Linked DNA regions of Homo sapiens. The protein of the gene in region 1 purifies or fractionates together with the protein of each later gene. This does not show direct contact. Each region holds a gene or a part of one and is shown on either strand. Other genes may lie near its edges.

Region 1 (6,281 bases):
CCATTATCTACTAAAAAAAAAAAAAAAAAAATTAGCCGAGCCTGGTGGCACACACCTGTAATCCCAGCTGCTCAGGCGGCTGAGGCAGAAGAATTGCTTGAATCTAGGAGGCGGAGGTTGCCGTGAGCCGATATGCCACTGCACTACAGCCTGGGCAACAAAAGCAAAACTCCGTCTCAAAAATAAAAAAAATAAATAAATTTCTGGCCAGGCATGGTGGCTCACACCTGTAATCCCAGCACTTTGGGAGGCCGAGGCGGACGGATCACAGCATCAAGAGATTGAGACCATCCTGGCCAACATGGTGAAACTCCGTCTCTACTAAAAATACAAAAACTAGCTGGGCATGGTGGCACAGGCCTGTAGTCCCAGCTGCTAAGGAGGCTGAGGCAGGAGAATCGCTTGAACCCACGAGGCAGAGGTTGCAGTGAGCTGAGATCGCACCACTGCACTCCAGCCTGGCAACAGAGTGAGATGCTGTCTCAAAAACAAATAAAATAAATTTCTTCACCAAACCTGAATTCTCTACATAGCTAAACTTAGTAATCCAATGCAAAATAGAACTTTACAGACAGGAAGGTCTCTAACCTATTGGAAGATATCCTACACCAAACCAACAAAGCCATAGATCTAGGAAACAGATCATAAATTGAGAGGCAAAGGGAAACCCAGAACAATGGCAAAGCCCCAACTCAACAGTTACTCAACAATTCAAAAAGGGCAAACAGTTCAGATTAGAACACAGAAAACCATCAAGAAAAACATGAAACTAATTACCAAATTAATGTATATAAAAAATCTTTTTTCAATTCTTGTTACCGTTTGAAAATCAGTGTCTGCTGGACAGAAAATTATCTAGGCCAAGAGGTACTGCTAGAAACGGCTCTGAGAATTGCAATTTAAATGAGTCAGACATACAGAAACAAAACAGTACAAAAATCGGGTTACAAGTTTTTTTCAAGAATGGGTTTGATCTCCAAAATTAATCCTTAAAATTAAATCTAAGTAGTGTCTCTCATTTAGTACTAATTAACTGCCAAAAGTGCAGCTTGTAAACATTTTAACACAACAATCAAAATTAATCTGGTAGCATGTTTTTAGTCACACTAAACCTGGTTTTAATTCAATCTGTTTTTACCCCCTCCCCGCACATTTATAAAGTTTTTGATGTGAAGGCCGAACACGGTGGTTTATGCCTATAATCCCAGCACTTTGGGAGGCCGAAGGAGGAGGAGGATTGCTTGAGGCCAAGAGTTCAAGACCAGCCTGGGGAACATAGCAAGACCCTGTCTCTACAAACAATAAAAATATTAGTTGGGCACAGTGGTATGCGCCTGTAGTCCCAATCACTGAGGAGGCTAATGAGGAGCACTTGAGCCCAGGAGTTGGAGGCTGCAGTGAGCCACTGTACTCTAGCATGAACGACAGAGGGAGACCCTGTCTCTTAAAAATAATTTTTTATTGAGAGATTTACATAAAATAAGCATATGATACCAAAAAGAACCCTAGCTTAACAACCCTAACACAAAAAATTTTCATTTATTTTGACCATGAGTCAGCAAACTTTTCTGTAAAGGGCCAGACTGTAAATTATTTTGCTTTGCAGGTCTCTGTCCTAACTACTAAACTCTACCACTGTAACACAAAAGCAGCCATATACAAAACATAAACAAATGAGCATAGCTGGGTTGCAATCTTATAAAAACAGGACACAGGTCCTCAATTTGGATCTATCATAAAAAAACTTTAATAACACTAACTTTTGCTCATTAAAATGTTTGCTTAGTTGGAGGTCAAATTCTTAGCATCAGATGTAACTCCACAAAAGTAAGAAAGGTATTCCATCACTTCACTACTATAGAACTGTATAATAATACATTTCTCATTTGTTACCTTTCTAATGAACTATTCTGAGCAGTCTGAAGTAACTGACTGCACAGCCTTAGATTACCACTCAGGGTGGAACTCTTAACATTCACTTAAGTAATACCTACAAACGATTTTCCATTCAAGTTGATGGGTATCAATTCCCTGAATGCTAATAACAGAACTCAAGAAGCTTCCAACAAATGACAGGAAAAACAATTCTGACTTAATCCTATAGTTATCACTTAGACTCTTCAGTTTCACTTTCTTAAGAGTGACTCAAAAAGTTCCTTAGGCACACATACTAATAATCACAGTCCTGAAATTTTAAGGCCCTAACCAAAAAAATAAAACCTTTGAGAAATGGAAAATAAAATCATTCAAACAAATAAGCACACACACATAAACACGGTATATATTTCTTTAATCCTCCCTCAACACTTGAATTCATCTATGAAGTCCACCACAGCTCTAAAAATCTCTCTGAACTAGCCGCATTTCTATTATAATTAACAGATTTTAAGTCCTTTTTATTTAATGGAAGCATAAAACATTAACTATCTGTGCAAAGGGGTACTTTTGCACATTTATCCAGATTTGTTCTAAAAAGCACAATACATATTAAGCAAAAACTGGGCATTTGGGAAAATATTCATATAAATCTTAATGGCTACATAAGGAAGTATTATTAAAACAACCAACAAACAAATTGACATTAAGTCATTCCCAATTTGGACAGGGAGGACACATTATGGCAAAAATTAGATTTTGCTAAAAACATTTCAAACTTCACTGCAATTTTAATCATGTCCTCAATTTCGGCAAGCCTGTCTTCCAAACTTATGCTTTTAATAACTTGAATCCATGACAATTTTTCCTATTCTGATGATAAAAGAGCCAATACATTTTTATACAAAAGGATTTATTAAAAAACCAGTAAGACACTACTACATCATGACACTGTCACACTGGGCTTTTAACACAAGACTTGCTCTACAATACTGGGGGAAAGGGCATAAAACACAAATTGATTCTGAAGCATAGCAATTAAGAAATAAAACAATGAAAGCAAATTTCTTTTAATGAGAACTCAGAATTAAACTTCAGAGGGACCCAACGTCATACTTCCATTCAGGGACTTGATACAAAAAATTTAGTTTGAACTGCTATTAGCAGGTGGCAGGAGCCACCTTCAAATGAATCTTCAAATTGGAAAATACTGCTTCACCACCTGGAGACAAAGAAGAAAAAATAGAAGTCACTCTGGGCAGGCTACAACACTTAACAAAAATTTACATAAAACTGAGTTATCCCTATGTTCCACTATATGTAAATACTGTATAACATTAAATGTGTGATATGTTTTATAAATTAAAGCTGAACAGTAGAGTCCATGAGCTGTAAATCCACATGTGCACCACTGGTTTAAGATGTGATATGCTTTTACAAGTATTCTTTAAAATATAAAAAGCTTTAAAGTATTTACCCAAAGAACTCATAAAAAGGTCAATTTGGTAAAAGGACATTTTGACCCAAGAGCATCTAATATTTAAGCTTATTTTATTGGATAAGCATATCTCTTGTCCATCACAAGTTATAGAAAAGTTATATACGACTAAAAGAAAAAGTTATCTACTGTAATTATAGGAAGTTGTCACAACAGGAATTCAGCTCAAGAACTTCTTGCAATTACTGCTACAACGTCTATAAATGGGAAAAGCAAGCATTAAAATAGATTAATAAAATATAAAATTAAGACTGGAAAATCCAGAGACAAGCTGTATCCTTAGAAGAATAAATAGTTAAAATTATTCAGTAAGCTGACGTATTTAACCATTACTGGGCCTGTAAAAAATGCATTAAAATTACATTACAAATAGTTTTTAAAAAGCAAAGAAATAAGTGAAGGCAAAGCTTGAAGTATCCATTTTATTTTATAATGCTGATACAGGATGTTGGAAGAGACCATACCAAACGGCAGCATTCGAGAGCGTGAGCATCTCGTACCCTGTCCGCATTGAGCGGGCCTGTGAGAATCGTGAAGTCAGCGCGACACAGGGCCTGCAATGAAGTTCCCGCTGGCGGGTACAAACAAGGTATAATGTCAGAGTTAGTAGGCAATACTTTTTTGCTGCAATTCCTTAATTTGTACCCATTAGCAGTACTTTACCTGTTAACTTTACTGACTTGTTAATAATAGGACAAAAAGGCAAAAGCTTAAGAGCACCTGTGTTACATATCTTTGAAAGTCACTATGTTATAATATGGTAAGCACTTCTGGGTGCTGTGAAACTCTTAAATTAAGCATTGTTTTATGAACAATATAGATTATAAAAACTACTATTGTAAATGACAAAAAAAAACTATTTTTAGAACATACCTGTTGGGGATAAGTTGCAAATGGAATAATTTAGTATGGTTTGTAGCTATTTTGATGACCACCTCGCCTGGATACCTTCCCATAACCACTCTGCTGGTCTAAAATAAAACAAGTGTTAGAACCAGAACGGTAGTGGTTACATACTAATAATCAGAACAGTACCTAATTTTAAACAATCTCAAAAAATTAAGGGTAGCTTAATTCCCAAGTGTGAAAAATTCACCCTGAGCAATCATTTATCAAATAATTTACCAAATATGTAGTGAATGCATACAATGGCAGGCATTCAGAATGAGCTGATTACTTGACTTATTGTATAAAATGGGAGACAATCCCCTCACCCTTACAGTTTAAAAGTTTTAAGTTTCAAAGGATGGACAGCTGACCCTTTCACAACCACCAGCAAAAAATATCTTAAAATTTAGAACAAATTGTCAACCACAATCAGTGCTTAGTATCTCTGCCCTTCTAAGAAAAGGGCCCCAATCTCACCCAATCCATCTTTGCTGACCTTCTTCTGACTTTAATTAACCTATTATTGTGCAGCAGGCCTAGTCACCTAAGAAAGGATATAACTCCAAGAACTGGTCTAACCAAGGAAGGAAAAGAAAAACCACTTAAAACAATGCAACCAATGCAACCACTCTCCTCCAAAAAAATGTAAGATTGCTTCTAGTAGAACCCTTTACCTGACGACTCAACAGTTGCTACAAATCAGGTGGAGAGCAACTACCTTAGTTGCACAATGAAGTCAGGGCTTTCCATGTCTAAAAGTCAAGTTTTTTGGTTCTATCAAGCTCAACATCTGTTTTAAGAGTTTCTACATTAATAATCCTAAAGCGAGGATACTATTAGTTTTAACTGGCAACATGTGGTATTATTCAGTTTTATAGGATTAAGACACATCATGCCAAGATTATTGGTTGGTCCAAGAAGTGACATTTAGAATACCTTGAGCTTAAAAGATCTGAACTGAGCTTAAAATTTTTAAATCCAAGTAAAACAAATGCCCAGCAAACATATATAGAACCACACATACACCCTACCCTTATAATGTGTGTGTGATATAGGCTGGGAGGAACCAAGCAATAAAATGGCTGCAGTTTCAAGTTTCCAGGAATTTGAAACCTGAAGACATTTGCACTTGGCAAGGCTACACTAACCTTTCTGCCTATCCAAATTTGTACAAAATAAATGTCAAATAGCAGTTAATATAAAAAGTATAGTACTTACTGCTATAATCACCATATCCATAGTAGTTGTTGTAACCAGTGTAGTCATATCCTCCATAACCACCGTAACCTTGGCTGTTATATCCATAGTTGCCATAGCCTTGATTCCAATAGTTACTATATCCCTGGTTCCAGTTTTGACTGGGGCCTGCAGCACATTAATAGGTTCACTAAAGTCAGAAGATCAGCAAAGATCTTTACTTCAGGATAATTAAAAAGCAGAAAAGCTTAAGATAGAGTAAACTTAGGCTCTAGCTTACCACCACCTCTTCCACGAGCTCTTCCTGCAAATCCTCCTCTAGATCCCCACTGTTGCTGTTGCTGATATTGTTCCTTCGACATGGCTACTTTTATTTCACACTAAAAGAGAAAAATTACATTATTAAACTGACTCAAGAAAATAAAAGTTGCTAAATAAGTTTCTAATAACCAGAATAGCCAACATGTTTAAATAGAGTAGGCTAATTTGAAACTTTCCTCAGTCAGTTTATTAATTAAACCAATATTTAGTACTTAAGAGTAATCACTTATGAGTACTTGCTAGTGATGTTACTTCATTTTACTTGTCAAGTTCTAAAAACTATTTTTGTGAAAGCCTAGACAAAAACACTAACAAATGTGTCCATCCTGCTCCCCACAAAAAGTTGGTCAATGGTAAGTAACCAATGAGAAGTTTTTAAAGCATGCAAAGAACTTAAGCCTTTACAGAGAAAGATAAATGGTTAAGCTCTTTACAACAGCTAGTTTTCTCTACAAGTAAATGGATGCTTAACTTACTTTACTAAGACCAACATTGTGGTATT
Region 2 (8,287 bases), on another chromosome or scaffold:
TGTATTTGAAGCAGAGCCAGGAAAATTTGAAAGTCCTTAAATCTTGATTAAGTGGTCTGTGGGTGTTCATTCTGTTTTTAAAACAAAACTTTTTAAAACTGTGTAAGACCCGAGAGCTGAGGGGCTTTTTAGTAAAGGATTTTGTAGTGATTTTGATCTTTTCACCAGGACAGAACAGCTGCTTTTGTTAATCAGCAATTCTACCTTCAGTAAATTAAAGCCTTTATCTTACCCGGTGTACATGAAGTTCCTTAAAGATCTAATGCTTCCATGTACATTTTCTATGGTTTTACAGGATTATTATTGCCAATTTAGGTCAGATACATCACAGGAGGAATAAATTATTATTTTGATAGAGGTTATTAGCAGCATGTATACAAATTAGTTTAGATAAATCATGCATTGTCCTACAAACTAGTTATTTCTGGCTTAATGTAATATAGCTCCTGAATTTTTTCCAGCAGCATAATAAAATGGCTAATCAGGTGAATGGTAATGCGGTACAGTTAAAAGAAGAGGAAGAACCAATGGATACTTCCAGTGTAACTCACACAGAACACTACAAGACACTGATAGAGGCAGGCCTCCCACAGAAGGTGGCAGAAAGACTTGATGAAATATTTCAGACAGGTATAATATGCATTTCTTGTTTCTGACTGGTTATGAAAGTGAGGGCAAACCACTTTGAATTTTATAGTTTTTTAAGGTTAAATAATACTTATTGTTTCTGATCTGTAGAGCTGAATGTTTGTTACTTTCCCTTCATTGAAGGCATATTGGGTTTGACTTTGATACTCTTATTTCATTATTTTGAAGCCTTCTTAGTGTTGAATATGCAGTCTTAGTTGTTTCAGAACAGCACATCGATTTGTCTTAGATTTACCACCCATAAAAATGTATGTTTCTGCATACCAAATTTTACATTTTTTTCTTAATCAAAATCAGTCATCATTTTGCTTTTGCTTTTCTACTTTTACCTTCTTAAAGTGATTGTTAAATCAGCTTAGGTCTGATTAGGTGGCATAACAAGAGGATAGCTGTATCGTCTGAAACCATAATAAATGTCAGACTCCTTGAGAGTTTGTGGCTTGTCTAGTTTCTAATAGAAATCCACATCTCTCCGTAATTTGGAAGTGTTTGGTTGTAACAGCTGCTTCTTTTTTTTTTTTTTAATCCAGAAGTGCCATGGTTAAGTGCTTAAGCAAATTTGAACATCTTAATATAGTTGGTTGTAAGTGGTTTGAAGTTTTAAAGAGGGAGAGAAATATTTACCCTTAGGGAGCGTTGTTCATAAATGAATGTGTCCTCCTCCTTTGGGGACATAGATGGAAACTTTCTTCCTCTGTGTTGTGTGTGCCTATTCAGATTCTGAGAGAGAATTGAATTGTCTCACTCACAAATGTGTCTTAAGTACAGTAGTAGCAAATAGCTGTTTTTTTTTTTTTGTCCTTAAAAAATTTTTAAATCTGGGAAGCTTAGCATAATTTTAGACATTAAAATGACTTATAAAAATGACTCCTGGGTCATGGTCGCATTTGAAAATCAGTCCTCAGGAACTTTCTGTGACATTCTGCCATAGAGAATTGGCAGTGATCTGCTTAGAGATGCTCTCTTGTAGAGTGTTTTGTTATTGATAAGAGGCTGATGGTTTGGGCGTAGACTTGGTTTGACAAAATGGATTGATGGGTGTCCTGAGTTGTGGCTTCGGGTGGTGGTATGGAATATTCAAGTGAGGCAGCTCCAGTTATTTACACATGCTCATTTCGAGCTTTTGAAACAAATCATGGCAACTTTTTTAAAAAGTAACTTTGGAAGTGGCATTACATTTATTTAAAATTTACTATATGGAATAAAGTTCTTTTTAGCTTTATCAAAATGGAGTCACTTTTCATGTTCATATGAACTTGGGGGTTTTAATCTACGAAATACTTGCATTTTACGTTGGATCAATTCTGAAATATATTCCATATGTAAATATGACACAAACTTAACAGACTTAAGAAATTATATTTTAAACTTAGTAGATGTTCTGTGTGCAGTTGAATATACTTACATATATGAAATGCAGTGTATATATTTTCTGTCAAGTTTACTTGTAAGACCATAAAGTCTTTATTGCCATTTGAAAATGATTGTCGTTCTTGACAGTCAATGTGAATGCCACAGCATCTTTTAAATCTCAGCTTGTCACTTCAGAAGAACAAAGAATGCCTTAAAGTATGACTTTCAGAATTGATTAATCAAGCTGCACTTGCATTTGTAGAAGTTTAAAATTATGCCTTTCCACATTCTGACTGCAGCAAAGTGGATGCTCAGATAAACAAATGCATTTCAGTTTATCTTTGGTGTTCAGGAGGGAAAGCCTTTTGACACTTTTTGGAGAGTGGAAAGAATTACTTAGTAAAATTTGTTTTCAGATTTTCCTCCACCTCTTAGGTGGTTAGCATCAACTGTAACCGTCTGTAATTTGAAGGTTTATCCTTGGAAAACGCAATGTATTCTTATCACTCTAATATAAACCAAAATTTGTTGTATTAATGCATAATCTGTAATACAGTATGTACATCAGATTTAACTTTCAAGACTTATACCTTTGGGGGAGTGGGAAATGGATGTTAGGATTTGGCGGGGGAGGTTTGTGGATATGGAGATTGAAATTCATGTTTTTGGTTGTTGACATTTTATCTTTATTTTCATATTTGTCCTGGACCTTTCTATGTAGTATTTGGATAGCTGCGTATATGCATATAGTTAAATGAAAATACAGTTTGTTAGTGATCATATTGAATGTAACAATTCTTGATTAAACGTCAGTAGAGCTTAGATTACCCCTTTTGTTGCAATAACGTTACCCCTTTCAATTTAATTTTTAGGATTGGTAGCTTATGTCGATCTTGATGAAAGAGCAATTGATGCTCTCAGGGAATTTAATGAAGAAGGAGCTCTGTCTGTACTACAGCAGTTCAAGGAAAGTGACTTATCACATGTTCAGGTAAGGTCGTTACTCAGAAATGTCTTTGAACAATTAGTAATCTGAAATTATTTTACTATTACTTTTTTTCCTATGGAGAAGTGGTATTTTTTGTTTGTGACTACCTCTTCTTTTAAAAAATTAGTTTAAAGGAAAAAAACTGCTTGTGGCAGAGTTTCAGAAGCCCAAGTATAAAGCAAAAGTTTTCTCCCACCCCCTTGTGCAGTAAGTTATTTTAAAAACTTAAAATTAAAGCCAAGTTTTGATGGTTGTTACTATAGGTTTTTACATGTTACTCAGCTTTTTAACATTTGGGGGTTATTTGATCCTGTTTTATTATCTTGGAGGAAAATGTAGGTGGGAGGAATAGTTTCCGACATCTGGCAAAGACAGTCTAGATACAGTCACATATCAACAAGTGGAAGACTGTGTTTTCCCAGGGTAGAAGGTAAGCTCCCTGAGGTCTATACTGCCTTACTGCTGTCTGCTCCAATCTCTGGCACATAGTAACCACTCGGCAAATACTTGTTGAATGAATCAGTAAATCTTTTGTTAAAATCCTGGTTTTCTGAAATTTAAATTTAATTATGTATCTGACCCTTCAGATATTTTTGGTGATTCTTTTTATTGAATTACTTGTCTGTTCTAGAACAAAAGTGCATTTTTATGTGGAGTTATGAAGACCTACAGGCAGAGAGAGAAACAGGGGAGCAAGGTGCAAGAGTCCACAAAGGGACCTGATGAAGCGAAGATCAAGGTAAAACTTGACTTGGGTAGTTGTAATGAAATTGCATTTAATGATGAGGTCAAATGCCTCTTTCCATGTTTCCTAGAAAGTTTCACTTTTTTTTTTTTTGAGACGGAGTCTTGCTCTGTCGCCCAGGCTGGAGTAGCGGCGCAGTCTTGGATCACTGCAAGCTCCACCTCCCAAGTTCATGCCATTCTCCTGCCTCAGCCTCCCAAGTAGCTGGGATTACAGCCATGCACCACCACACCCAGCTAATTATTTGTATTTTTAGGAAAGATAGGGTTTCACTGTGTTGGCCAGATTGGTCTCGATCTCCTGACCTTGTGATCCGCCCACCTCGGCCTTCAAAGTGCTGGGATTACAGACGTGAGCCACCACGCCCAGCTGAAAGTTTCACTTTTCAAAACTAGTGTTTAGAAATGAAATAATTTAGAGGAATTACATAAGAAGGATAATTTTGGGGATCGACACTCAATTGCATGTTTAATGAAAAGCCCTAATTCATACTCTTCCTCATTCCCTCTTTTGTGGCCATGAATGACGTATATTTATTGATGCTTCGCTGGTAGTTTCTTGGATTGATCCAGTAATGTCTCTTGGTTCAGTTATTTTCCAGCCACTTTGTTTCTTTTCTCTTGATAAAAAGGTTATAACTTGATAAAAAGTTGTTATAACTGCTTTCCTCCTTTTGAATATTCAGTTACCTCAGTTTCTTTATTTATAAAATGGGGATAGTAATAGTGACTACCTTACAGAGTTATTGTAAGGAGTAAATGAATTAACATATATAAAGCACTTAGAATAATGCCTGGAATGTAGCAAGAACTATATAACCATGAACCATTATTATTATTACCATTTTATTACTTAGATAAACAGCTTTGAAAAGGTAAATATACAGCTTTTAATGAAAGACCAGTGAACCTAATTCCTTAGTTAAATGGATACTCGTGTCTTGCTGTAGTGACATACTTTTCTTTTTTTTTTTTTTTTTTGAGACAGAGTCTCACTCTGTGGCCCAGGCTGGAGTGCTGGAGTGCAGTAGCGCCATCTCAGCTCATCTCAGCTCACTTCAACCTCTGTCTCCTGGGTTCAAGCGATTCTCCTGCCTCAGCCTCCTGAGTAGCTGGGACTACAGGCGTGCGCCACCACATCCAGCTAATTTTTTTTTTTTTTTTTTTTTTTTTTTTTGAGACGGAGTCTCCCTCTGTCGCCCAGGCTGGAGTGCAGTGGCGCGATCTCAGCTCATTGCAAGGTCTGCCTCCTGGGTTCACGCCATTCTCCTGCCTCAGCCTCCTGAGCAGCTGGGACCACAGGTGCCTGCTACCATGCCCGGCTAATTTTTTTTTTCTTGTATTTTTAGTAGAGACAGGGTTTCACTATGTTAGCCAGGATGGTCTCAATCTCCTGACCTCATGATCCGCCCGCCTCGGCCTCCCAAAGTGCTGGGATTACAGGCGTGAGCCACCGTGCCTGGCTGCTAATTTTTTTTGTTTTTTGGTAGAGTCGGGGTTTCACTGTGTTAGCCAGGCTGGTCTCAAACTCCTGACCTTGGGGGATCTGCCTACCTCACCCTCCCCAAAGTGCTGGGATTACAGGTGTGAGCCACCATATCCGGCCTGTGATAGACTTTTTTTTTTTTTTTTGAGACGGAGTCTCGCTCTGTCGCCCAGGCTGGAGTGCAGTGGCGGGATCTCGGCTCACTGCAAGCTCCGCCTCCCGGGTTCACGCCATTCTCCTCCCTCAGCCTCCCGAGTAGCTGGGACTACAGGCGCCCGCCACTACGCCCGGCTAATTTTTTGTATTTTTAGTAGAGACGGGGTTTCACCATTTTAGCCGGGATGGTCTCGATCTCCTGACCTCGTGATCCGCCCGCCTCAGCCTCCCAAAGTGCTGGGATTACAGGCGTGAGCCACCGCGCCCGGCTGTGATAGACTTTTTAATTAGAAATAGTTATTGTATGTTGAAGTTATTTCTATTATTATTACATTGTAATATGTAATGAAATAATTATACAACTCACCATAATGTAGAATCAGTGGGATCCCTGAGCTTGTTTTCCTGCAACTAGATGGTGCCATCTGGGCATACTGGTAGATGGTGACAGATCTTCAAGCATTAGATTCTCATAAGGAGCATGCAACCTAGATCCCTTGTATGCACACTTCACAATAGGATTCACCCTCCTGTGAGAACCTAATGCGGCTGCTGATCTGACAGGAGGTGGAGCTCACAGCTCAGGCAGTAATGCCAATGATAGGGAGGATGAGGAGCGGCTGTAAATACAGATGAAGCTTTGTTCTCACTTGCCCGCTATTTACCTCCTGCTATGCAGCCCGGTTCCTAACAGGCCATGGACCAGTACGGGTCTGTGGCCCAGGGGTGTGGGGACCCCTGTTTTATATTACATTTATGGCTCTGTTTCAGTCAAAGGTAGAAGAATGGAAGGCCGAAGGCATGCATCCCTGTGAAATCCTAGTGTTCACTGAACTTGATGATATCTAAAGTCTCTTATTGTTCTGACATTGTGTAATTTTAAAAACCTGGCTGGGCTCTGTGGCTCACGCCTGTAATCCCAGCACTTTGGGAGGCTGAGGCGGGTGGATCACGAGGTCAGGAGATCGAGACCATCCTGGCTAACAACGGTGAGGCCACCTGTCTACTAAAAATACAAAAAATTAGCCGGGTGTGGTGGCAGGCGCCTGTAGTCCCAGCTACTTGGGAGGCTGAGGCAGGAGAATGGCGTGAACCCGGGAGGCGGAGCTTGCAGTGAGCCAAGATCGCGCCACTGCACTCCAGCCTGAGCGACAGAGCGAGACTCCGTCTCAAAAAAAAAAAACCAAAAAAACTGAAGTGTAAATTTCTCTTTTCTAGGTAGATTGTGTTTCTTTGTTTACCATTGTATCTTTTCTTCTCTAAGCTCTTTATATAGATGTTGCCTCAATTATAACATAAATTCCTGAGAGCAAGGAGATTATCTTCTTTTCTATGATTGCTCTTAATACCTAATAGAATGTAAGGAAGGTTGGTAATCAGGAAACACAAGATTTTACTTATTTTTCGGAACCTGACTATACTTATTTGGTAATTGCCAAATATTTTTAGTCTGTACTGTATGATTCTTGTCTGATTACCTGATTCTTGTGGAGCTTATGATATGGCAGGAGTACAAACCAGAAGGATCAAACAAAATCAAGCTTAAATGATGGAACTTTAAGTACACTAGAGGCTGGGTATGGTGGCTCATTCCTGTAATCCCAGCACTTTGGGAGGCCAAGTCGGGTGGATCACGAGATCAGGAGATTGAGACCATCCTGGCTAACACGGTGAAACCCTGTCTTTACTAAAAATACAAAAAATTAGCCGGGCGTTGTGGCGGGTGCCTGTAGTCCCAGCTGCTCGGGAGGCTGAGGCAGGAAAAGGGCGTGAACCTGGGAGGCGGAGCTTGCAGTGAGCCGAGATCGCGCTACTGCACTCCAGCCTGGGTGACACAGCGAGACTCCGTCTCAAAAAAAAAAAAAAAAAAAAGTACACTAGAAAGACAGTGGGGGCTGGGCACAGTGGCTCACACCTGTACTCCTAGCACTTTGGGAGGCCAAGACAGGCGGATCTCATGAGGCCAGGAGTTCCTGACCAGCCTGGCCAACATGGTGAAACCCCATCTCTACTAAAAATACAAAAATTAGCTGGGCGTGGTGGCACATGCCTGTAATCCCAGCTACTTGGGAGGCTGAGACAAGAGAATCTCTTAGACCCGGGAGGCAGAGGTTGCAGTGAGCCGAGACGATGCCACTGCACTCCAGCCTGGGCAACAGAGCAAGACTCCATCTCAAAAAAAAAGAAGAAAAGACAGTAGGGAGAAATGGATGTGAGTAATAGTAAATGAGAGAAGCTGCATGAAGGAGGTAAGACTTGTGCTAATTTTTTTAAGGATAGAGAACATTTTATTTGAAAAGACTCACCAGTAGAAACATGTATGGGGAACCAGTGCGAATTTTGACTTTTTTTTTTACCTAACCATAAAAATATATCTCCTAGGAAGTTGGAGTCCTTTTTGGAAAAGATTAATACACTGATGCTTGTGTGTGAGATTTAGTACTCAAGTATAAAGAGATGTATAATTATCTCTAGGCCTTGCTTGAGAGAACTGGTTATACTCTGGATGTAACCACAGGACAGAGGAAGTATGGTGGTCCTCCACCAGACAGTGTGTACTCTGGCGTGCAACCTGGAATTGGAACGGAGGTAAGTGTTCTTTAGCAGTTTACCAAGATCTTTCCAGTTTGGAAAGTGTTTTATCTACTATGCAGATACTGTACAGACGGGGGAAAATTCTTGATCCCTTTCAAAGTGTAGCTGTTGTTAGTTTTTAGATATCCATTTGTATTTTGCTGCCATCATGAGGATGGATAATCTTGTGACTGGTAGATACCCGAACACTTTATATAGGAATATAATATAGAGTTTTTGGAACAGGTTGCTAAAACCATGCTACTAGCAGCACACCATTTTAGATACTTGGAGTAAAGTTATTTGGAAGACGCAATTGCTTTATTCTGTCTTTTTTT
Region 3 (8,287 bases), on another chromosome or scaffold:
GTTTCTACTTTTGTGTATGTTTGACTGTTTTGTTTGTTTGGTTGGTTTTTTTTGAGACACAGTTTTCACTCTGTCACCCAGGCTGGAGTGCAGTGGCATGATCTTGGCTCACTGCAACCTCTGCCTCCTGGGTTAAGGCGATTCTCCTGCCTCAGCCTCCCGAGTAGCTGGGACTATAGGCCCATGCCACTATACCCAGCTAGTTTTTGTTTTTAGTAGAGATGTGGTTTCACCGTGTTGGCTAGGCTGGTCTCGATATCTTGACCTCGTGATCCCCCTGCCTCGGCCTCCCAAAGTACTGGGATTATAGGTGCGAGCCCCATGCCCGGCCTGTTTGGAGTTTGTTGTTGTTGTTTTTTTTTTTTTTTGAGAGACAGTCTTGCTCTGTTGCCCGGGCTGGAGTGCAATGGCACGATCTCGGCTCACTGCAACCTCCCCTCCCAGGTTCAAGCGATTCTCCTGGCCTCAACCTCCTGAGTAGCTGGGATTATAGGCGTGCGCTACCACACCCTGGCTAATTTTTGTATTTTTAGTAGAGACAGGGTTTCACCATGTTGGTCAGGCTGGTCTCAACTCCTGACCTTGTGATCCACCCACTTCAGCCTCTCAAAGTGCTGGGATTACAGGTGTGAGCCACCGCGCCCGGCCTGTTTTACGTTTTTAACAGAATTATTATTATTTTGAGACAGGGTCTGGCTCAGCTGCCCAGGCTGGAATGCAGTGGCACGATCATGGCAATGCAGCCTCAACCTCCCAGGCTCAAGCAAGCCTCCAACCTCAGCCTCCTGAGTAGCTGGGACCACTGGCATGCAACCACACCCGGCTAATACAACTGTTTGTAAAACTGAGAGAAAGCAAGTCTTTAGAATGCACTTACTAAATAACACGAATTACAGGGAACAGTAACATACTGCATATAGTGATGTAGACTGTGGGAAACTACAAGGACAAATGAGCCAGTCCTACCTCAGAATAGTTCCAGCCAGATAAAAGAACCCACAGAATTATGGTTATGTTATAAAATAAAGCAATTAAGTTTTAGAAATCCATCTTGAAATATTTGTGATGGCTTGGATTTGTTTGAAGTTGTCCACAAAGTAGTAGGTGGGGAGATGGAGAATAACTGTCCATGATTAGTAACTGTTGAATCTGTGTGACAGGCACATTAGCCTCAACCTCCTGGGCTCAAATGATCCTCCCACCTTTAGCCTCCCCAACGTAGCTGGGACCACAGGTGCATGCCACCAAGCCGGGCTAATTTTTTTTTTAATTTTTTAGTAGAGGCAAGGTCTCTCTATGATGCCCAGACTGGTCTGTAACTCCTGGGCTCAACTGATCCACCTTGGCCTCCCAAAGTGCTAGGATTATAGGTATAAGCCACTGTGCCTGGCCCAAGGCAAGTTTTAATTATTGATCAGTCACCATAGGGTTCCTGCCTGTGAGGGAACAATGTGTGCAGAAGACTTGAGCCAGGGGTTGTATTGTGCAACTGCAGCTAGGTCTGAGATCAATGGTAGGAGATGACATAGCCTTAAAGGCCTGGTTTGGTGTTCAAAGGCCAGTGGGAAGGCATTTAATGGAATGTGGTGTGAAAGGAGTTTTGCTTTTTAACACAACAGTCTAGATGCTATCTGGAAAATGAATGGTGGGAAGAGATACATGGAGACAAGATGGGAAGGAATGAAACAAGTCTAGGAAGACTGGTGGGAGAAGAATGTGAAAGAATGTGTAATGTAGAGAAAAATGACTGAGTCTGGAGACTGACTGACTCACCAAGAAATACTACGCACCTAAAAGATACAGGAACTGTAGTGGTAAAGAGACACAGTTCCTGCCTTGGTGGGTCCAGTAACAGTGGAGTAGGAAATCAAGAAATGTACAAATATATGATGACAAATTTTAGAATGAACGAAAAACAGAAAATAGGCATTAGCTCAGATTGGGGTTCTGAGGAAGTGACATTTAAACAGACAGGAGCATGGGTGAGTGGGAACACTGAGTGATGAATTTCATGTAGAAAGAAGGGAAATTCTTTTTTCCTTGATAAATAGCTGAGGTTTAAAGTAGAAGCTGGCCAGGAGCAGTGGCTCAAGCCTGTAACTCCAGCACTTTGGGAGGCCGAGGTGGGAGGATCACTTGAGCCCAAGAGAGTTCGAGACCAGCCTGCGCAGTATAGTGAGACTCCCATCTCTATATAGGAAAAAGATAAAAACTGAGGGAAAAAAAAGAAGTTAAAAGCCCATTATTCTTTTTTCCTTCTGTACATTATCTCCCCTCTGGACACTTGTTCAAATTATTTATATTTTTTACCAAAGCCCTTTACTGGGATACATTTTGGTGCTGGATGCTTTGTATTCATATTCTTATTTCGTGGTGAATCCTTTAGATTGAAGAAATTTTAGGACACAGCTTCTGCTGCTCGTGTCTGTTCACCACATGAGAAGCACAAGATGCATCTTGGGGGCAAAAATTCCCCATCATGGTATATAGTATGTGAGCAGATCATAGACCATATTTGTTATGGATGTTTTCCTTTTCTGTTGGAAATATTGAAAATTGGGTTTAATGGCCTCAAAAGTATCTTCCAACCCAGCAATTTTATAAAATTCCTATTCAGTCACTCTTAAGTACTTCCTGCTGTCATGAACTCAAGAATTATGATACAAGACACTAATTCCATTTAAAAAAATGCACCAACGCACACATTTGTACTTAACTTTTCAGGGGCACATGTATCTGAAGTGTGAGAATTCTAACCCAATTCACACAACGTGCCAAATTCAATACACAGAGCTATCCTAAAAGCTATTAAGGACTGAGAAGTGGCCAGGCACAGTGGCTCATGCCTGTAATCCCAGCACTTTGGGAGGCCGAGGCGGGTGGATCACGAGGTCAGGAGGGCTAATACGGTGAAACCTCGTCTCTACTAAAAATACAAAAATTAGCCAAACGTGGTGGCAGGCACCTGTAGTCCCAGCTACTCAGGAGGCTGAGGCAGGAGAATGGTGTGAACCCGGGAGGCGGAACTTGCAGGGAGCCCAGATCGCACCACTGCACTCCAGCCTGGGCGATAGAGCGAGACTCCGTCTCAAAAAAAAAAAAGACTGAGAAGCTGCAGATGGAGCATATATTAACATTTTAAATGTTTACTCCATTATTACTACATTTATATCCACCAAAGGGGATCTGTCCTGATCTGCATGCAACAGGAAAGCTGTTTTCCATTACCATCTATCAGGTCCTTTCACTTACTTGCTGTAGCTAAGTCTGGGGGGATAACACACTGCTTCCCTCAGCGTTCATTTCTCAAAAGCTGTGTTACTAAAAAGCATCAAGAGTAGTATAATGTAATGTTAGATAAATTTTATCTATACTGTTTGTACTGAAATTAATATAAGGGACAAATTCTGACCGATCATAAAACAAGCAACCATTGCTGTTTGATATTGACTGCATTTTGCAAATGCCCAAGAATCATGATATCTAAGGTAAATGTTCCTTAAAACGTTAATAAAAAGCAAAACTGCTACTAGACTTCTGTTCCTAAAAATAAAATCTGTTCTTAACTGAGGGCAAATATCATTATTTGGATTAGCTGGAGTAACTGGAAATAATATCCAAAGAAATGGGTGTGTATAGATTCCGCTAAACAAAAATACAATTGATAGGAAGATCAATTTTGTTTTTCCCAGACCACCTCCTGTACCTCTCTCCCTTGAGCAAGCAGCCCCTAAATAGGTGCATAGTCAAACCCTGGAGCTGGAGAGAAAGGAGGCCTGTGGGGTATCCTCAGCCCCCTGAGGAAGGTACATTCCTTGGGATGGGAATTCTTCCTGAAGCCTCCATGGAAACATGACACCTTAGTCAGGTTCCAAGCAGCAGGCCCTGAGCTGAGACTGCTGGCCCTGAGCTGTGCTGCCCAGGGGACCACTGCATTCTGCCTTGGGGGAATTGTGCAGAACAGAGAGATGGAAGGAGGAAAGGAACATGACAATTTACAGAAGAGGGGCTCCGGCACCCAGAAATAACATACCACACCTCAGGTTTCAGGGAACAAGAAGTGCTAGACAAAAACCATAATGATTTTAACAGGAAAAAAAGAGCAACTTCAGATACCACTCCATTACAAAACTTAAAAAAAAAAACTTTCTGGAACTAAAACTGAGTTTTAAATTTAAAAGTTAGTAATGAATTCAAAGAAAGGAAAACGAAGTAGAATAAACATCAAAACAGAAACAATGGGGGAGAAGATAAGAGATTTGGAGGACATACTTTTTCCAAAGCAGTTTCCTCTATACTTTAGGAGTTTTACCAACACACGCCTGTGCTGTGTCTTTTCAAAATATCCTAATGGGAACTACAGGGATCTTAAGCCAGGAAAATTCACTTCTAATCCTTTATCGCTTCTCTTGCTGCCTCCATCTGTGTCTTTTTCTCCTTCTGGAATTCCTACTATTCACATTATTTCTCCTGCCTGAAAAGAAACCAACCCTATCAACACCCTCATCTTAAGACTTCTAGCCTCCATAACCGTGAGAAAATTTGTTACTAGTCTGTATTACTTTGCATGGCAGCCCTAGCATACTAATACAACGTGTTACCAAACCAGACAAAAACATCACAAGAAAACTAACTTCTGAATTCTATGTACTTTAAGAGGATCGTATATGGTATCTAACACCAACTTAAATTAGAAAAGATATGTATTTGTCATAAACATCATAATTCTATTAGATGGCACTATTCTAATCAAATAACTTATGATGGATTTATCGGGATATAACAGTAAGTAAGAGTATCTGTATTTGTATTAGGTGAAGCATTTTGTCTAACAGGAGGCATACCGTTAGGATAAATCTAATAGGAGTCTTAATCTGTCATGCCTTTTCTTAATTATGATGGCTTTTTTTTTTTAAACGGGGTCTTGCTTTCTTGCTCAGGGTGGTATGCAGTACTGCAATCACAACTCACTGCATCCTCTATGTCTTTACAAGTGTTCGCTATCATACCTGGCTAATTAAAAATTCTGTTTTTGAAAAGATAGGGTCTTGCCATCTTGCCCAGGCTTATCTTGAACTCCTGAGCTCAAACCATCATTCCACTCTCGGTTCACTGCAACCTCCACCTCCTGAGTTCAAGCAATTCTCCTGCCTCAGCCTGGGATTACAGATGCACACCACCACACCTGGCAAATTTTTGTATTTTTAGTAGAGATGGGGTTTCGCCACATTGGCCAGGCTGGTCTTGGACTCCTGGCCTCAAGCAATCCGCCTGCCTTGGCCCTGCTGGGATTAAAGGTGTGAACCACCCCGCCCAGCCTGTGTCATTTTCAAGAGATCTTTTTCCTAGCCCCAGCCCATATAGTTATCTGAACTTACAAAGCGTTGATGTTCTTCTCTAAATTTTTACACTTACATCTACAATGAACTTGGAATTGATTTTTTCATTTCCAAAAGAGTTTTACAATTAATCAAGTATCACAGGCTAATTTCACTCAAGAACTCAGATGCAAAAGTCCAAACCAAGTATCAGTCAACCTAATCCAGCAATATATAAAGCGATATTATGACCAAGTTGGATTTCAGGAATGCAAGTGTAGTTGATCATTTCAAACTCAATCACTGCAATTTCTCATACTGATGTATCAATGGAGACAAAGTATAGAGGTACTTTTTTAATGTTTTATGAGAAATGCTAAGCTGAATTTATGTCAAGGAAGAACTGAGGCCATATATAGTGGCTCACACCTGTAATCCCAGCACTTTGGGAGGCCGAGGTGGGCAGATCACTTGAGCTCAGGAGACCACCCTGGGCGACATGGCAAAACCCCTTCTCTACAAAAAATACAAAAAAAAATAGCTGGGCATGTGGCACACACCTGTAATCCCAGCTACTTGGGGGGATGAGGCAGGATTGCCTGAGCCCAGGAGGTTGAGGCTGCAGTGAGCTCTGTCCACACCAGGGCACTCCAGTGTGGGCATCAAAGTGAAACCCTTTCTCGAAAAAAAAAAATGTGGAGGGCTGGGCGTGGTGGGTGACTCACGCCTGTAATCCCAGCACTTTGGGAGGCCAAGGCAGGTGGATCACTTGAGGTCAGGAGTTTGAGACCAGCCTGGCCAACATGGTGAAACCCCCCACCCCCTGCCACTCCACCATCTCTACTATTAGATGGGCGTGGTGGTGCTGCACACCTGTAATCCCAGCTGCTCACGAGCCTGAGAATCGCCTGAACCCAGGAGGCGGAGGCTGCAGTGAGCCTGGATCCTGCCACTGCACTCCAGCCTGGGTGACAGAGTGAGAATCCGTCTATAAAAAAAAAAAAAAAGGAAAACAAAAACAAAAGTACATCTTAGAGCGATCACATGAAAAAGTATTCCTGCTAATAAATGAAAAGGAATCGATTATTAAAATATCACTAATTTGAAAACCATTTAAGAAAATAATGGATCTACATAATGATCATTAATAGCTGCTGTAACATGACAAAAGAGAAGATACCAACCAATATGTGCCTCCGGTTGGAGCACAGCACCTCAAGTAAGTTTTCTTTCCAAAAACTCTCATCTGAATCAAAACTACCTCCAGACTGGGTGCGGTGGCTCACACCAGTAATCCCAGCACTTTGGGAGGCTGAGGCGGGTGGATCACCTGAGGTCAGGAGGTTGAGACCAGCCTGACCAACAAGTTGATACTCCGTCTCTACTAAAAATACCCCTGTAATCCCAGTTACTCAGGAGGCTGAGGCAAGAGAATTGCTTGAACCCAGGAGGCAGTGAGACAAGATCACACCATTGCACTCCAGCCTGGGCAACAAAACCAAAACTCCGTCTCAAAAACAAAAATAAAACCAAAACCAAAAACTACCTCTAGAGGTAACTATCACTTTACAGGAAATATAAAGAACAGACACTCAAAGACCACCACGGAAAAACAATCAGAAAAATGCGAAGTGTGGGGAAGGAATGCTGCAAGACAGCCCGACAAATATAACGGGGGATGGAGCCTTTTAAGAAAGGGGAACCTCTAGATGATCACTTACACAGCATCCATTCACCACGCTTGAAATGTGTAAGTGTAAAACTCACACTGGATTTTGACAAGTTCACAGGATTTTGTTTTTAATTATTTTAGTCAAGATCATGGAGAAATGAAAAAGTGTTTTAAAATTACATGCAAAATAGTAGTGGATATATATTAGGTTAAATTATTAATACAATGAATCATGTTTCCTTTTACCACTAAAGAATATAAGATTACATTTATAGCATACATTATATTTCTATTGGACAGTGCTGCTCTGAATTTAAAAAGTTATCTACAAAATATAAGGTGTGACTTTGGATCCTGACTCAAACCAACCAGCTGTTTAAAATATTTAATACATGCCGGGCGCGGTGGCTCACGCCTGTAATCCCAGCACTTTGGGAGGCCGAGGCCGGCGGATCACGAGGTCAGGAGATCGAGACCATCCCTGCTAACATGATGAAACCCCGCCTCTACTAAAAATACAAAAAATTAGCCGGGCATGGTGGCGGCCGCCTGTAGTCCCAGCAACTCGGGAGGCTGAGGCAGGAGAATGGCATTAACCCGGGAGATGGAGTTTGCAGTGAGCTGAGATTGTGCCACTGCACTCCAGCCTGGGTGACAAGAGCAAGATTCCGTCTCGGAAAAAAAAAAAAATTTAATACAGAAACACTTAAACCCTGGATACTTGATATTTTGGAATGTATTTTTAGGCATGACAGCAGTATCATGGTTAGGTTTTAAAAGTTCTTAGAAATACTGCGGATTTATTTATTAATAAAGACCTTATTGGTCTGGGATTTGCTGTAAAATAAGCCAGGGCGGTCTTGGCTGAGCTCAGTTCTCCCTCTGCCCACCCTGTTGCCCTCCACAAGAACCGTAGCTCAGGGCAACTAAGACAGGGCAAGGGCCCTGGCAGGGGAGGGGTGTCCCGGTCCAACTTGGGACCCAGTTGGGACTGGGTCCCAAGTCCCAATTGTGTCCCTGGACACATGACTTCTCCCAACCTCCATTTTCTCATCTGAAACATGGGGCTAATAGCAAGCCCTTCTGGAGTAGTCCTGAGCATGTAATTAGAAAATGGAGTAAAACTTCTAGGACCTAGTAAGAGTCAACTAATGTGGTTCTCCCGAAGAGCAGAGAACCAGAGCTCAGTGGGGGAGAGGGAATTAGAGAAGTCACCTCCAAGGAAAGGGCCTGTCACATTTCTGCAGCCCCTGCAGGCATCTACCCCCACCGGGCTCTCATTTGCCTCCAGGCTTTC
Region 4 (8,287 bases), on another chromosome or scaffold:
CTAAACTCAGCTTGAGAAGAGGATGAAGAGGAGAGTCTGCCAGAGGCAGGAGCACCATTAATAGCAAGAAGTGACAAGAGAGATTTAAAAAGCTATAAAAAGCAAACATAATTCTGGGGCTATTTTAAGAAAAGGAAAACAACCCTATGTACTTCCTTGGTCCCTGAGGGTAGTACAATGTTTATTCTATAAGGATGATTTTGAGTCATAAAAATTAATATTCAGCATTCTCTGTTTAAGGGATTGAAACAGTGTATACCATTTAATAAAAGATACCCATAAAGTGGTTAAAACGTTTAAAACCATGATATCACTACATGCCTATTAGAATGGCTAAAAGAGAAAAAAATATGAGCAATACCAAGTGCTAGCAAGAATGCTGAGCAACTGGATCCTTACACATTGCTTGTGGGAATGCAGAATGGCACCACCACTCCAGAAAACAGTGGCACTTTCTTATAAAGTTAAACATACATTTATCATACGATCCAGCAATTCCACTCCTGGGTATTTTCCTAATGAAGACTTTTGTTTGTGCAAAAACTGGTACTCAAATGTCCATAGCAGCTTAATTCATAATAGCCCAAACGTGGAAACAAAGTATCCTTTAATAAGTGAATGGTTAAACTACAGTATAGCCATACTATGGAATACTACTTAGCAATAATAAGGAAGGAATTGCTGGTGTAGGTAACAACTTGCATGAATATTTAATTAAGGTTTTATACTGAGTGAAAGAAGCCAGGTTCAAAAGGGATGATTATAAAACTATAGTGATAGGGACCAATTCAGTGGTGCTGAGAGTAGAGGAGGGGAAGGATGTACACATAAAGGGGACAGCAGGAGAGATCTTTGTGGAGTGATGGAACTGTTCTGTATTCTGATGGTGGTGATGCTACCATACATTAAAATCAGAACTATTCATCCAAAGTAAATGTGTTAATTTTATCATATGATAATTTTTTTAAGATTAAGTAAAAACCACTGGCAAAGGAATTGACATGAACAATTCAGTATATATAATGTTGAGTAAATGAGACATTTATAAAAACTTTAAGCATCTTATTGGTGCTTTCTAGTGTTTTGTAAATTGGCAGAGGGGCATAATTTCCTGTTACCTTTGCTTAGAGAAATCTTTTTTTTTTTTGAGATGGAGTCTCACTCTGTCTCTCAGGCTGGAGTGCAGTGGCGCGATCTCGGCTCACTGCAACCTCCACCTCCTGGGTTCAAGCGATTCTCCTACCTCAGCCTCCCTAGTAGCTGGGATTATAGGCGCCTGCCATCATGCCTGGCTAATCTTTGTATTTTTAGTAGAGGCGGGGTTTCACCATCTTGGCCAGGCTGGTCTTGAGCTCCTGACCTCGTGATCCACCTGCCTCGGCCTCCCAAAGTGCTGGGATTACGGGCGTGAGCCACTGCGCCTGGCCAGGAGAAATCTTTTTTGATTTAGAGATTATTTCTTTTACAGAGTAGTAATTGTATTTTTTTGTTCAGTAGTAGTAATTGTATTTCTTTAACCATTAGAAGTTGGTCTACATGGAAAGACAGCCAGAACAATGAAAATAATAATACTTTGGCCTATGTATTGACTAGTTTTGTGTAGGTCCTAAAATAGCCTAATTTGAACTTGGCTTTAGCTAGTTACTTGGACAGTGTTTCTTCTTGTGTGCCTTGGGTCATTATAACCTTTGAAACTTCAGTGAATGACTTATGTTTATTTTAAAATCTTAGTGGCATGAAGTCACTGGAGCTTTCATAAATGTTTCTGCTATATGACTTGTGGTATCAGTGTAAGGGTTTATAATAAAGTCCTTCAGATCTTCTGAATTTGCTTCCATTGGAATTTTGTTAAATAATGCTCTTACATAAAATGGCGTTCATGCTATAAGTCAGTGGAAGAATGTGAGGTTAGACTATGGTTTAGAATTTTCATGGTTAGCATAATTACATGTTTGTATTTAGAGATGATGGTCTCCCTTCATGTATACTTGATGGGGGAAGAGAATGAACTGGTATCAGACCAGGTGCTTGCTAGATCCTTTCTCACATATTCCATCTCATTTAATCCTCAGAGTGCTTTGTTACCCCATTTTTCATGTGTAAAAACAGGATCTAGTGATTAAGTGACATCTGGGGACAAGTCATTAGTAACCTCAAGACGGAAGTGGAGTGCTAAAGTCAAAGTTCAGCTTCTTTGTGTAAGAATACTTTGTGGGTGTGCCTACCTACAATTCTCACCCCCAGGTCAATTACGATAGCTAACTGCTTCAGCTATGTTTTCTAGTTAGGATAGGAACAGTCATGTTGCTATTCAGAAGAAAAATGTCCATCAGTAGATCCTGGACACTGACAGTACATCTTATTCTTAAGGACCTTTAATTGACTGGAAGATTTTTAAGGTTCAAAACTGACCATATTATACCTCAAACTAGTCACTGTATATATTTCTCTGTTGTACTACTTTTGTCACTAGTTTAATTCACATAGCATAATGTCTTCAAGCTTCTTTCATGTTGTAGATTGTGTCAGAATTTCCTTAACTTTTAAGGCTAAGTAATACTCCACTGTGTATATGTACCACATTTTGTTTATCCATTCATCCACTGGTGGATACTTGGGTTGCTTCCACTTTTTGACTATTGGGAATAATGAATAATGCTTCTATGAGCATAGTATACAAAGAGCTGTTCGAGTTCCTGCTTTCAGTTCTTTTGGGTATATACTCAGAAGTAGGATTGCTGGGTCATATGGTAATTCTGTTTTTCTTTTTAAGGAATGGCCATATATTTTCCACAGTGGCTGTGTAGGCCATATATTTTATGTCATAAGTTATATAATATATATTATTATAATATAGTTCCATTTTTTCACATTAATGTGATTGCACTATACGTTATTCAGCAGTTTGCTTTTTTATTTGTAAGAAATCTTTCCATGTCTATACTTAGAGCTCTAAGTCTTTTCAGTCCCTAAATAGTATTCCATAATTTATCCAACCCCGACAGATGGTATACACATGATATATACACACAGTAGAGCTAAAGGTATGCACATTTTAAAAGCCACGTAGGACCATAGAGTCAACATTACCAGAACTTCAGACTTTGCAAGAAAGCCAGAAACCCAGATTTTTAAAAAAATTATTCCATTTTAAAAATGCCAAGCGAAGGAAAACTTGGTTCTAAGTTAGCTTCAGCTCTTGTGCCACCAATTTGTTATTTGAGCACTGATCTTTATCAACAATTATCATGGTCATCTAAATCTCTTCCTTTTTTTTTTTTTTACTTTAAAATTAAACCTATCAAAAACCACTCTGTCTTTTCCTGTCTGCCTCCTTGAACCTTTTTCAATGATCAAAATGCTTCCATTTCCTGGGGTTACTGCAATATGATGTTTCCTTAAATGCCACAATCCTCTTGGCCACTTCCATAGTATATTCTTCATTATATACTTCTCAATATTACATATTTTGAGGTGAGTGCTAACCCACATGTTTATTTGACATCTCACCATTTCCAAGGCACAGCCTCACTGTCCTCAAACACTTCAGCACCTGGTTTTACATTCTTATATATTATTTATACTGTGTCCCATCAACACAGACACTGACTCTTCACCTCTCTCATCTGGCATCCTGATTCTGCAACTGGAGTGAATTTCTAATTGCACTTTAGATACTCCAGAGCTTGGACCGTATAATTAGTGAGAAAAGTGACCCCACCTTTAACACTTCTGAACGCTGTGTCCCTGTCACTCCTTGCCGCTCCCACCGTCTGTCCCCTGCTTGCCTTCCGCCATTTCTCTTTTCCCATTCTGTTGGCTTCCTTTTTAGCTGTAACTAGCTTGAACTTCATGATCATTCACTTCAGAGTTACACCCTCTACCACCATAGAGTCATGCTTGGTATTCCAGCATCCCATCCTCCCAGTCCCTAGAATAATGACACACCAGGCCAATTCTGGCTCAGTAGTCTCCTACTTAACTGTTATACTCTTCCTTTTTTCCAGTACCCCCAACATTTGAATTCACCATATTTATCCAAAAGGTCGAAGAAATGCTTTGCAAACCCTTCAGTGGGTTGTGAAACCAAATTATTGGATGTTTGCCATTACTTAAAAATAACGGAGTAAAATAGAATGAAAAATAGAATGCAAGGCATATACTATAGGTAAATTCCATGTCATTACACTTTTGTATTACTGTGGGTAGCAGTAAGAATGGCCTCTGCACCTACCCCCGCGCCCCAGTGGAACTAATCTTGCACAGCTTTGGCAGGGTAGACGGCCACATCTTCAGGGAGGTCACTCTCCTGTTGGGACTTGAACAAAACCATTAAGTCCAAATTCCTTATTCAGACTTGTAGACCTTCCTGCGACCTGAACTCATTTGACCTTACTTAATGTTTCACAATCCCTCTACTGTACTTTTTAAAATGTTCCCAACCCAACTGGTCACTATTTCCCCAAGAAATATCCAGTTTCTGCTTATGTCATTCCCTCTTGTTTAACTACTGTACTGTGTCCTACTTTTGCTCATCAAAATTTTACTTACACTTCAAAGCCCATGTCAAATGCCAGCCTTCTTCATGGAATCTCTTGATATTTGAAAAAGTGGACTGGGAATACACACACAGCATGGTGTATGTTTGCAGTGGACATTCTAGTCTGTTGTATTGCACCTACCTGCATAACTGCATATTTACCTCCCCCAGCCACCCGTAGGCTCCTTGAGGCCAGGGACTGTTTTACTCCTCTTGTACCCCATTATGCTTAGCATAGGCACTCAACTCTAATCAGAATATTTGCTGCATTCCATTATATAGCCAGACAAATTAAATTATTTCAAAATCTGGATCAATGGCCATTACTTAAGTTTTGTTTTGTTTTTTTAATCTTAAATTTCTCATACTCTCTTTTCTGACTGGTTCCCAATGGTGATTGATTCTCCTTTCAGCAAATGTTTGAGCACCTGTTAATGCCCAGGCCTGGAGGAGTGAACAGAACAGGAAAGGAAGGAAACCTTCAGGGAGCCTATAGCCTCTGGGTTGAGGAGGTTCATTTAAATCCTTTTTTTCTTGTTTGGAACTTTCTTTAATACTGTAGAACAATATGTTTACTCAGTGAAGACCTGTGAGTGGCTCTCAAGTAGGGTTGACAGTTGAGACATTTGGCAGGGGACATTTGGCAGTGCCTGGAGGCATTTTTGGTTGTCACAGCTGGGGGAGGATGTTAACTGAAGGCATCTATTGGGTGGAGGCCAAGGATGCTGCCAAACATTCTACAGTGCACAGAACAGCCCCCATAGCAAAGAATAATGTGGCCTAAAATACCAGTAGTGCCAAGGTAAGGAAATCTTGGTATGAGCAAATCAAAGAATTATAAGCTTTATGCCTTTGTAAAGTCATATAAATGTTTGCGATAGAGATGTCCAAGTACACCAGGAAGAAAGTAATCAAAACTACAACTTAATTTTCTGAATCAAAATACACGCAGGTATACTTCCTCCTATGTCTAACATGTTTAGATCGACATTGTTCTTCATTTTAGTTTTCTGAAATTTATATGAATAGGAAGAAACTAATTAACACATATTACACATTCCAACCTTAATAAGCACTACACCATAGGAATAAATGTCAAATATCGCGTAACATGAAGAAGAGAGATTTTAGGATTTGAAAACTTAGACTACTTTCCAGTAGATTTATAGGCAGAATTTTCTAAATAAAACAGGCATTTAAATGAATCACAGTTCAGATAAAAATATTCTTAAATTATCTAAATGTCTCCATATAGTTCATCGTTTATTTCCTTTTCGCTTTTTTTTGAGATGAAGTCTCACTCTGTTGCCCAACCTGGAGTGCAGTGACACAATCTCAGCTGACTGCAACCTCCACCTCCCAGGTTCAAGTGATTGTCCTGCCTCAGCCTCCCAAGTAGCTGGGATTACAGGCACGCCATGCCCAGCTAATTTTTGTATTTTTAGTAGAGACAGGGTTTCACTATGTTGGCCAGGCTGGTCTCGGACTCCTGACCTCGTGATCCACCCGCCCTGGCCTCCCAAAGTGCTGGGATTACAGGCATTAGCCACTATGCCTGGCCCTATTTTTGCTTATTTTTATGTTTTCTCTAGAAGTAAATCTGATGAAGACCTTGCCTGTTATCCAGCTCTTAGAGCGATGCTTGGTGTGTAGTACATGCTCAGAAAATATTTGATAAATGGATATGAATCACCAGTTACAGGCAAGGAAGTGTGATGGCAGAAAGATGGTAGGAAGCAGAAGTTTTAAAGTCCCCCTAGAGTTAATTCCAAAATCACTGGTGTCAGCTTGGCCACCTGGTGCAGAGCTTTTATCTTTGAGTAAACCTTTTATGCTTCTTAACTTAGGAGATGTGTTGAGGGCATAAAATGGGTGACTGCTTCAGGAAATGGGCTGCATTTAGCCACCTTTCCTCTTGTTACACCTGGCTTTATCACACATTGTTTCTAGGCATCTTAGGGGACAGTGTAAAAGAGTTGAACTTGACCCACTGCAGTATTTGTAGAGGTGATGGTCAATCTGCATTATGGAGTTTAGGATCTGTGATTTAGAAACGGTACTTTTATGCGCCAGTCATTTGGCATTTCTCAGTTGTCTCTGGAATCAATTAACTTTCTTGAAAGGATGAATTTACCATGTTGGTGTTTTACTGGTTAGTGCAGGAAAGTATACTAGAGGGTTTATTGCTGGAGGGTTGACTTCACAGGTCTGAAGTACATCATTCATCCTCTGAGGTAGAGCACATTTATGAATAGTAGTAACAAGCCAGCCCAGACTGTTGGAGGGGGTCACTAGACTCCATGGATGAGGTGTTTTAATTTCCTGGACCTATGAAGAGTTTGCAAGTGTTACTATCTTGAAATAAATAGTATCAACCTGTGGTTCTTTTTCCTAAATTATGAAAATTGAAATTTTATGTTTTAGATTTTGGAATGGTATTTTAATAAGAATGATATTACTAGGATTTAGCTGAGTCATTAGATTACTAGAGTAGGCTAAATAGATTCTGAATACAAATAATGTGTGTGTTTCTTCCTTTTATCATTGTATTTTTTTATTTTTAAAGTTTGTAAAGTTTAATTTGCATTTCTTTTATGACATCACTCCTTTATTATTATTAATATTTTTAGAGGGAAAAATCAAGCAGTTTTATAATTCGAACATCCCAAATCTGAAATGCTCCAAAATTCAAAACTTTTTGAGCACCAGCATGATGCACAAAGGAAATGCTCACTGGAGCATTTTGGATTTTTGATTTTTGAATTTAGAATGTTCAACTGGTAAGCATAATAACAAATATTCCAAAACTTGAAAAAGCCTGAAATCCAAAACACTTCTTGTCTTAAGTGTTTCAGTAAAGGACACCTAACCTGTATTATTGAATAACCATTGAACCAGACTGTGATCACATCACAAGCAGTGTGTGCTAAAGAGATTGCGAAAGCCAAAAAGAAGTGTCACCCTTTGATACAGCCTGGCAGATACAAACTATTACATACATCCTAATTGTCGTTAATCAAAGGAAAAGGAAAACTCTGCCTTTTTACAAGTAGGAAGTTAATTTTGGAGCCAAAGCACCTAGGCCTTCTGAGAAGACAGGGAGATACCCTTCTTTTTATTATTATTGTTTCTTAAAATTGTGGTAAAATACACCTAACATAAAATTTACCAATTTAACCATTTTTAAATGTACAGTTCAGTGGCATTAAGTATATATATTTTTTTGAGATGGAGTCTCGCTCTGTCACCAAGGCTGTAGCGCAGTAGCGTGATCTCAGCCCACTGCAACCTCTGCCTCCCGGGTGCAAGCAGTTCTGCCTCAGCCTCCTGAGTAGCTGGGATTACAGGCGTGCGCCTGCCACCACACCCAGCTAATTTTTGTATTTTTAGTAGAGACAGGGTTTCACCATCTTGGCCAGGCTGGTCTTGAACTCCTGACCTCAAGTGACCCACCACCCTTGGCCTCCCAAAGTACTGAGATTATAGGTGTGAGCCACCACGCCTGTCCCCGGTGGCATTAAGTATATTCACATTGTTGTATAACCATCACCACCATCCATTCCCAGAATTTTTTCCTCATCCCAAACTGGAACTGTGTACCCACTAAACTGTAATTCCCCATTTCTTCCATGCCCCAGCTCCTGGTAACCACCATTCTCCTCTCTGTCTCTGAAGTTGTCTACCCTATGAGCCTCATATAATGAGATCGTATAGTATATGTAATTTTGTGTCTGGTTTATTGCATTT

Evidence for each region.
Region 2: the proteins of HNRNPD (region 1) and HNRNPR purify together in Homo sapiens (affinity purification with mass spectrometry; 4 studies listed by BioGRID and IntAct, with this or other methods). This does not show direct contact.
Region 3: the proteins of HNRNPD (region 1) and HNRNPF fractionate together in Homo sapiens (co-fractionation; 3 studies listed by BioGRID, with this or other methods). This does not show direct contact.
Region 4: the proteins of HNRNPD (region 1) and FAM120A purify together in Homo sapiens (affinity purification with mass spectrometry; 2 studies listed by BioGRID and IntAct, with this or other methods). This does not show direct contact.

The regions. Positions count from the first base shown.
Region 1 is NC_000004.12:82,351,058-82,357,338, forward strand, and holds the end of HNRNPD (heterogeneous nuclear ribonucleoprotein D0), read right to left. Parts: coding exon 6,256-6,281; intron 5,839-6,255; coding exon 5,739-5,838; intron 5,627-5,738; coding exon 5,480-5,626; intron 4,345-5,479; coding exon 4,277-4,344; 3' UTR 4,247-4,276; intron 3,098-4,246; 3' UTR 1,441-3,097; downstream 1-1,440. UniProt on the Homo sapiens protein: Binds with high affinity to RNA molecules that contain AU-rich elements (AREs) found within the 3'-UTR of many proto-oncogenes and cytokine mRNAs.
Region 2 is NC_000001.11:23,333,195-23,341,481, reverse strand, and holds part of HNRNPR (heterogeneous nuclear ribonucleoprotein R), read left to right. Parts: intron 1-461; coding exon of another isoform or gene 462-473; coding exon 474-630; intron 631-2,873; coding exon 2,874-2,992; intron 2,993-3,620; coding exon 3,621-3,728; intron 3,729-7,850; coding exon 7,851-7,964; intron 7,965-8,287. UniProt on the Homo sapiens protein: Component of ribonucleosomes, which are complexes of at least 20 other different heterogeneous nuclear ribonucleoproteins (hnRNP). hnRNP play an important role in processing of precursor mRNA in the nucleus.
Region 3 is NC_000010.11:43,397,992-43,406,278, forward strand, and holds part of HNRNPF (heterogeneous nuclear ribonucleoprotein F), read right to left. Parts: intron 1-8,287.
Region 4 is NC_000009.12:93,454,534-93,462,820, forward strand, and holds part of FAM120A (constitutive coactivator of PPAR-gamma-like protein 1), read left to right. Parts: intron 1-8,287. UniProt on the Homo sapiens protein: Component of the oxidative stress-induced survival signaling. May regulate the activation of SRC family protein kinases. May act as a scaffolding protein enabling SRC family protein kinases to phosphorylate and activate PI3-kinase.